2 linked regions of the Homo sapiens genome follow. The protein of the gene in region 1 purifies or fractionates together with the protein of each later gene. This does not show direct contact. Each region holds a gene or a part of one and is shown in the gene's direction. Other genes may lie near its edges.

What was found.
Region 2: the proteins of DEFB114 (region 1) and CRYBG1 purify together in Homo sapiens (affinity purification with mass spectrometry; one large-scale study listed by BioGRID and IntAct). This does not show direct contact.

Annotation. Positions count from the first base shown.
Region 1 is NC_000006.12:49,961,258-49,965,853, reverse strand, and holds the start of DEFB114 (beta-defensin 114 precursor), read left to right. Parts: upstream 1-1,689; 5' UTR 1,690-1,748; coding exon 1,749-1,803; intron 1,804-4,596. UniProt on the Homo sapiens protein: Has a salt-sensitive antimicrobial activity against Gram-negative bacteria, including E.coli, Gram-positive, including S.aureus, and fungi, including C.albicans.
Region 2 is NC_000006.12:106,569,285-106,572,517, forward strand, and holds the end of CRYBG1 (beta/gamma crystallin domain-containing protein 1), read left to right. Parts: 3' UTR 1-2,711; downstream 2,712-3,233. Other genes in the region: RTN4IP1 (NAD(P)H oxidoreductase RTN4IP1, mitochondrial isoform 1 precursor), read right to left, coding at 2,712-2,819. UniProt on the Homo sapiens protein: May function as suppressor of malignant melanoma. It may exert its effects through interactions with the cytoskeleton.

The DNA of each region.
Region 1 (4,596 bases):
AAAAGGAGCTATCCAGGCATTAGAGTTTTCATCAGGAAGACTGGATGCCGGATGTTAGTAGAGTAACAGCTTCAAAGTTGTGAAGGAACATGATTTTGAACCTAGATTTAACATCCAAATAACTAAATGTGAGGGCAGAATAAAAATATTTTTTAGAAACAAAATTCTAATTTAAAAAAATCTTTTCTGAAAACAATTCTGGAGGGAGAAAAACAAGAACAACAACAAAAAAAGACACAAGATCCAGATCACGGTAAATTAAACTCAGGAGGGCAGGTTTAGAAAAATCTTAGAATGAAGCAATCTCAGGACTCACCTATGCTACTCAGATAAACTTGACGATAGAGAATGCCTATTATTTATATTTTGTCCACATATACAAAGAAAACTGCAGGAAGAAATACTCTTCAATAATGACATAACCAAATATAAAACAAAATAAAAACACAAAAAAACACTTAAGAAAAAAGAAAGCAGAAAGAAGAAAAGAAAGATATAAAATAAATTATTGGTAATAATGTTAATAATAATGTCAATTTGACTTTGAAACCAAGAGCATTTCTCTTTGATTAACCCAAGTGTTGTGATATTGGGCACATAGAAAAAGGCAATATAATTGATAATACTTATTGTACTACAGTCTAAAAATAAAGTGTATGTTTTAATTCTAATTATACATAGAGTACACATATTATCTTACACAAGATGAAAGGAAATGTGTAACAAATGAATGAGGTGTAAAAAGTGGGGAGAATTGCTGGAGTAACTAGCAAGAGGGCTAATATTTTCATTTTAAGTGAGGAAGGCTTAATATTGCAACTACAGTTGATAGGAAAAATATAAGTGTTTTATTGAAGATTATAACATTTTTAAAAAATTAACATAACTTCAAAATATTTGATAAAGATAGCCTAGAAAAGAGTGTAAGTAATCTAAATTTGTAATTTTCTTAGTAGAAACCAAGAGATGTACTCTGTTTGGTAAGCCAAGATAAGATATAAACTACATCCTTGTTCTTATGTTAGTAATCACTAGAGGGCCTAGTGGGTAGGAAATTATTGCTATTCATTACAGTCTCTTCTCATTATTTATTGTGTCCATGTAATTAAATATTTAAATGTTAAAAAAAGTGGAGAATTATTGAGCTTTACTAGGAAAACAAGAGTTTTGTGAATATTTAAGTTCCATCTCAAAAATGTAACAGAAATTAGTGATAAAAGTGAGGCTTAATATTTGGGTCTTGTAAATGAATAATTTGGGGGAAATTAATGGGATAACATGATATAATTAAAATTTTTTGATATGCAGGCATATTGATGAATTGACACACCAGATTAGTGATTACAGTAAATTTTGAAAAGTAATCAGCAGATTAATGGACAATGTTCAGCTGTTTTATTTCTGAAGTAGTAAATAAGTATTTACCTTAAATTTATTCCATGGATGCCCCTTTGCATTGATCATTAATTAATTAGCAATGATAGGAAGATGCCATGTTTACAGCTATCATTCACAGAGGGATTCCTTCCAAAAGCTCTATTATTTTCAAGTGTTTTCAATTTGGGTAATTCTGCCCACAGCCATAGTCATTGGAGCAGAGATAGGCACACAAAATTAAAACAATTTCCAGATAACGAGAGTTTCTCTTCCATGAGAAAACTATAAATAGTAAACGTCTTTTGGGTTTTGGAAAGTTCTATAGTCTCTATATTCTGTTATCAAGTCTTTCAACAACTTCTTTCTACAGAATGAGGATCTTTTACTATCTCCATTTTCTGTGTTATGTGACCTTCATTCTACCAGGTAAGATAGATGTCTCTGTTATATTTGTGTAAAACTTCTCACTAGAAATAGAAATAATAAATTATTAATTGTAGAATGCAAATTTTTAATGCAATCTTATCAATTAAATAAGTGTCTTTATTATACTGAATCTTGGTTTCCTCATTGATAATATCATTATACTGGTGTACTGTACCCACCTCATTCTCCAAATATGTAGATAAAATGAGATAATGAAGACAACATCTTTCAATTTTTTTGGACTGAGTTTTCTTCTAGATATTTAAATTGTTCAGAAAACTATAATATATTAAATTTATTTATAAGTCTCAGAAGTGAAAGCTTGAAAGTAATTAGACCCTAGAGAAACTGAATGAACTGAGAACAGCAGTGTATATTTCTTGGAATATCAATAACAGAATCTATAAGATGATCAAATGGATATTAGAAAATATTTTGAACTGAATAGTAATAAAAATGAGATAAATCAAAGTTCATAGTAGGGTTTACAAGGAAATTAATATAGTTATATCCATATATCTAAAAAGAATTAAAACTAAAAATGTAACTAAAATTTTAACTGATGAAGTTAAAAAAGAAAATCAAATTAAAATGACAGTTACAAACATGTAATAAGACTTAATTAGATGTAAGTAGAAAACAGACACTAGAGAAAATAAAGAAGGCCACATTTTGTTTTTTGAAAAGACTAACAAAATTAATAAAGCTTTGACAAAACTGTAAAGAAAAAGTGAAGGCAAAACTAAACTTTATCAGAGATATTAGTATATATGCTACAGATATCAAAAAGATCATGGGAGAATATTGTGAACAAGAAACTTTTTGCATCTGTATTAATGAGTAATTTTCTTTCTTGTAATGTCCTGATCAGTTTTAGTACCAGGTATTGTTGATCTCATAAAATAAGTTAGAAACATCCTTTTATTTTCTATTATCTGGAAAAGTTTGTGTATAATTGGTGTTATTTCTTCTTTAAATGTTTAGAATTCAACAGTGAACCTATCTGGGCTGGGTATTTTCCCTATAGAAGCTTAATTATTATGGATTCTATTCCCTTAATGAATTTGGAAACATTTAGATTTTCTATTTCTTTTTGTTGTTGTTCAGATTCATTATGATGTAATTTTTTCAGAAATTATCTAATACATATAAATTTTTGAATAAATCAATGGAGAATAGAGAACCCAGAAACAGATAAAGATGGCACTACAGAACAACGTAATAAATAAGCTTTTCAATAAATAGGGCTGGTTCCATTGCATAGCCATATGAAGAAAAAATGAAGCTTGACTATTGCCTCTTACCACATCCAAAATCTCATTCCAAATAACCTGAGATGCAAGCATGGAAAAAGGCAAAACAATAAAGCATGCAAGTTAATGTAAAAGAATTTACTAACAATTTTAACATACAAGTAGTAGTATTTCTTAATCAGTAGAAAAAATAGTATTGACTACATTAAAATTTGGAAACTTTTGTCAGTCAAAAAACACCAACTAAAAAAAGCAAGCTCTATATGGAGAAAAATATGTTCAATACATTTAGCATATAAAAGGAACACAACTAGAATATATAAAGAACATACATAAAACAGTATAAAAAAGACAGACTGTCCAATAGAAAACCAAAGATGGATCACTTTCTAAATGATAGATATTTATTAGGTCAGTAAACATAAGAAAATATGTTACCCTTTTTCAGTAATCAGAAAAATTGGCATTTTATTATGAAATATAAAATGGGTTAAGATATATGAGGTGTCTACATTCACATCATAATTACTAAATTGAAAATATCAAGCATTTCTTAGATTTTAGATGTCTGAAACTATTATTCAATGCTTCTGGAAGTTTAAGTTAGCACCAATTATTTGAACATCTGTTTGGCATTATCTATTAATGTTGAAGCTATGTAGACACCTTACCATTGTATTTCACCCTTAGGGATATGCCCAACAAAAATGCCTGAGCATGTGCCCCAAGAGTCAAGTACAAAAGTATTCAAAAATGGGAAACAACCTGAATATTCATCAGCAGATAAGGCTAAAATGTCGTATATGTATGTAACAGTCCACTATATGATAATGAACATGGAAGAATTATAGTTATACAAAACAAGAACAAATCTCAAAATACAATATTGTGAGTGAATAAAATCAGATGTAAAAATATATGTGCTGTACTGTTGCATTCACATAAAGCTTTAAAATGAGCAGGCTTAAACAAAATATAAATCAAGACAATTTTTTTTTAACTGAAAGAGTGAAAGGAATAGTAACTGTAAGGGGGCACAAGTGTGCCGGAAATGTTCTATTTCTTGACTTGGGTAGTGTTTACATAGGTCCTTAATGTTTAATAACACTCTTAGCTGAGCATTTATTTTTGGGTACTCTTCTGCAAGTTTGTTTTATTTTCTTTTTAAAGTTCATACATAAAGAAATAAAATACAATAAAGCATCTGCTGTTTCTATTACACACTTTTGTAATCTAAGCTGTTTCTGTTTCAAAAATCCATAGCTATATTCATAAAATGCAATTGATAGCTGAAAGAGATCTAGAGTTTGTGAGTTTAGCATATAACAACATTAAGCATACAGTGAAAATCATTTAAAGAGGTGAAGAAATTATTTTAATAAATAGTGTGGAATAATTATTTAATCATTTAAAAGAAATGAAGTTAGCTACATATCTGACAAGTACAGTTGATATAAAGAGAAAAATACTATAATAAATAAAATACTATGATGAAAAAATCTATGCAAGAATTTCTTATTTTGAAGTTAGAATAATACAT
Region 2 (3,233 bases), about 57 Mb from region 1:
TCACGGCTCACTGCAGCCTCTACCTCCCCAGGCTCAGGTGATCCTCCCACCTCAGCCTCCCAAGTAGCTGGGACTATAGGCACACATCACCAAGCCCAGCCAAATTTTGTTTTTTTTTTGTAGAGATGGGGTTTCATCACGTTGCCCAGGCTGATCTCGAACCTCTGGGCTCAAGCAATTCACTCGCCTCGGCCTCCCAAAATGCTGGGATTACAGGCCTGAGCCACTGCGCCCAGCCAGGATTTGAATTATTTTAACTCATCCATGGGCTGCCCTAGAATGTCACAAATGAGGGTTGTTTAATGCCTTTCTTATAGCTGCTACTGGAACACTATTATGACCTAATTTATGAGCCATCCTTACTCATCTACAAGTGCTGAAGCAATGTTACATACTTTTTTGCTAAACTCAGATTTTTTAGCCTAATTTCTTGTCCTCCTATCCACCTGCATCCACACATGGCCTGCATGGGGCTGCCTTCCCTGCAGTGTTCTGCAGCCATGCTTCAGGGTATAGCTGTTGGTGGACAGCCTCAGGTCTTGGGGGCACTATAGCCACTAAACGAGGTGTGAAAGGCTCAAGAGGATGACCAGCAATTAATTATCCCCAGAAAGTGAAGGAAAAGAGACCTTTAGGGATGTTGCTGGTCAAGTCTTGATTTGACCGGAGTCAAATCAATCTTCAAGCAATCTTGGAATCCTCAACTGCAGTAAGCATTTCAAAATGCAAACAAACTGCTTAACAACTGACAAGACACCAGCCCATACGCTGCTCTTCCAACAGTGGGTTCTAGCTTTGAACAAAAGTGCTAAACATTTCCTTGAATATATTCTTCCTCTTTTTGTCCTCATCACTCAATACTGGTGCTCTTGTCACAGGTAGAACAGCTTGTTTCTTTTCCATCTATTCAAGTGTGTTTCTAATTCTAAAATGCTGATCTTCTCTGGAGTCTATGGTAGGCAATTATGGTCACTGGAATAGTTTGTCTTGTTTTAAAATATTATTGGTGCATGTACAACAGCATCCAACATATCTGTCTTGTTCCTAGATATATAGCTCTGATTTTAGGCCTTTTGTGCATACCATTACAATATGGTGGGGTAAGACATTCTACAGTAGCCTGTGCTGAACTGATCTCTTAAATAAACTTGCTTCTGGTTAACTATGTTGATGAAATCTGAGAGTCCATTCAGTAGCCCTCATCTCACCCTTCAAAGAGAGTCAGCTAGCAGATTAGAAACAAATGTCTGATTAGGATGAAGCAGGTTTGAGGGGTGCTGGTATAATAGCAAGAAAGATTTGCTGACCACTCTCTTTCCAAACTCCATAGTTTCTGAGTGGAAACGAGGATGAGTGAGGTCCTGGCTCAAGTATTTTACTCCCACTACCACCTGGGAGCCCTCCAGGAAAAGAGCTGAGGCTGCTCCAGATGGAAGTCAAGAGCAGCTGGTATTTACACCTGGAAAATCAGATTTTTTTTTCTTTTGCAATAACTCGGTAGTAAGACCAGACCAACAATTTTAGAGAAAAGCCTACATCTAACATACATGCTACCAAACGAGTGTCTAACAGGAATAAACCAAGCAGAAATCTCAAAACAGGTCTACATCAAAAGTTACAAGCAAGCATATCAGGTGCAATACTGAGGATGAGTATATTAGGAAGTAAAAACACTTACCGTAAATGAATATTCGAAGTGCACACTGCAATGGGTTGATTGGAGAGATATCTAAATGTAAACATTTGACATCAAAGTGGCAAGCTTTGGGCTCCATTGGAAGGCTGCAATTTCCATGGAAAAGCCCTCAGAGAAGCATGTTTCAATTGCCGAAACAGGCCTAATCCTTATGCAAGATGTAAGGGTTTTAAAAAGTTAGAAACTCTGCTCTCACCTTTCAATATTAAGAGCATAAACAAATGAATCACCAGGCAGATTTTTATATATGACACTAAGAGATTTAGAACTTTAAGAGCTGTGGTGACCACATTATGGTGGAGGAACAAAAAAGGAAACCTTGGCAGTTAGAAAGCTGCTCAGTGATGAATTCAAGAAGGAACCAGCTTTAAATTATCTCTTCATGCCAACATCCATCTATACACTGAAAGTTTTAGTATTGTACATTAAGACGATCAGGCCCAGCAGGGTGGTTCACGCCTGTAATCCCAGAACTTTGGGAGACTGACATGGTGGATCACTTAAGCCCAGGAGTTTGAGACCAGCCTGGGCAACATGGCAAAACTGTCTCTACTAAAAATACAAAAAAACTAGCTGGGTGTGGTGATGCATACCTGTAGTCCTACCTACTTGAGAGGCTGAAGCAGGAGAATCGCTTAAGGTCAAGGCTGCAGTGAGCTGTGATTGTGCCACTGCACTCCAGCCTGGGTGACACAGCGAGACCCTGTCTCTAAAACAAAAAAGACAATAAAGTAGTTTAAGCTAGTAAAACAGAAGGTGCCACAACAACCTGCAAAGCCAGTGTGAAGGAACAGCTTGAAAAAACTTCGAATTTCTACTGACTACAGACAAATCCAAGTGCTGATATTTTTATATCAATTACTGGCCAAAATGGTGTGTTTATTTTTTAAAGCTTGTATCATGGAATGTATAATCTAATCTGGAAAAATGTTTGAAAGGGATGGCTAGAAAAAAATTTGGGCTCACAGGCACTCACCAAATAAGAACGTCAACAATCACTAAACTGCATTTTTATTTAAACAACATTAATTACAGTCTTTCCTCGTGCGTGTCCTCTTTCCACCTTCAGGAAGGCTTCTGGAACTTTAGAAAAAGGAAAGGTTTGTTCAATAACTGGCCGGATCTGTAAAACATAAGAGGTTGACCGGTGGATAAAAAAGCCTACATCTTTCAAGGCAGATGACATTGCTAATTAGTTTCTTGACGGTGTCCCTCAAGCCACAGTCTCTCTCAAGTGTCTCTCCAGTGGACCCAGGTCAGGCTCTCACAAGGGCCATGATGCTGCCTCCACTCCTGCCTCACTGCTGCTTCTCTCTTTATGGCCCCTCCCACCCCACTGCCCAGTCTTACTTCTCCTCCATGCTGGTCTTTCACTCTCCTACTTAGAACCGTTCAACAGCTCCCACTCCGGCATTCGAAGACCAATAGCATCCTGAGCTCAGCCCTCATCCAGATTCCATGCTTTGCAAAAACGCTCTACCTGCCATTTTCTCCACGTGGTATGTTTATGCCTCTGCTGGTACGAGTCAGTAAGCCC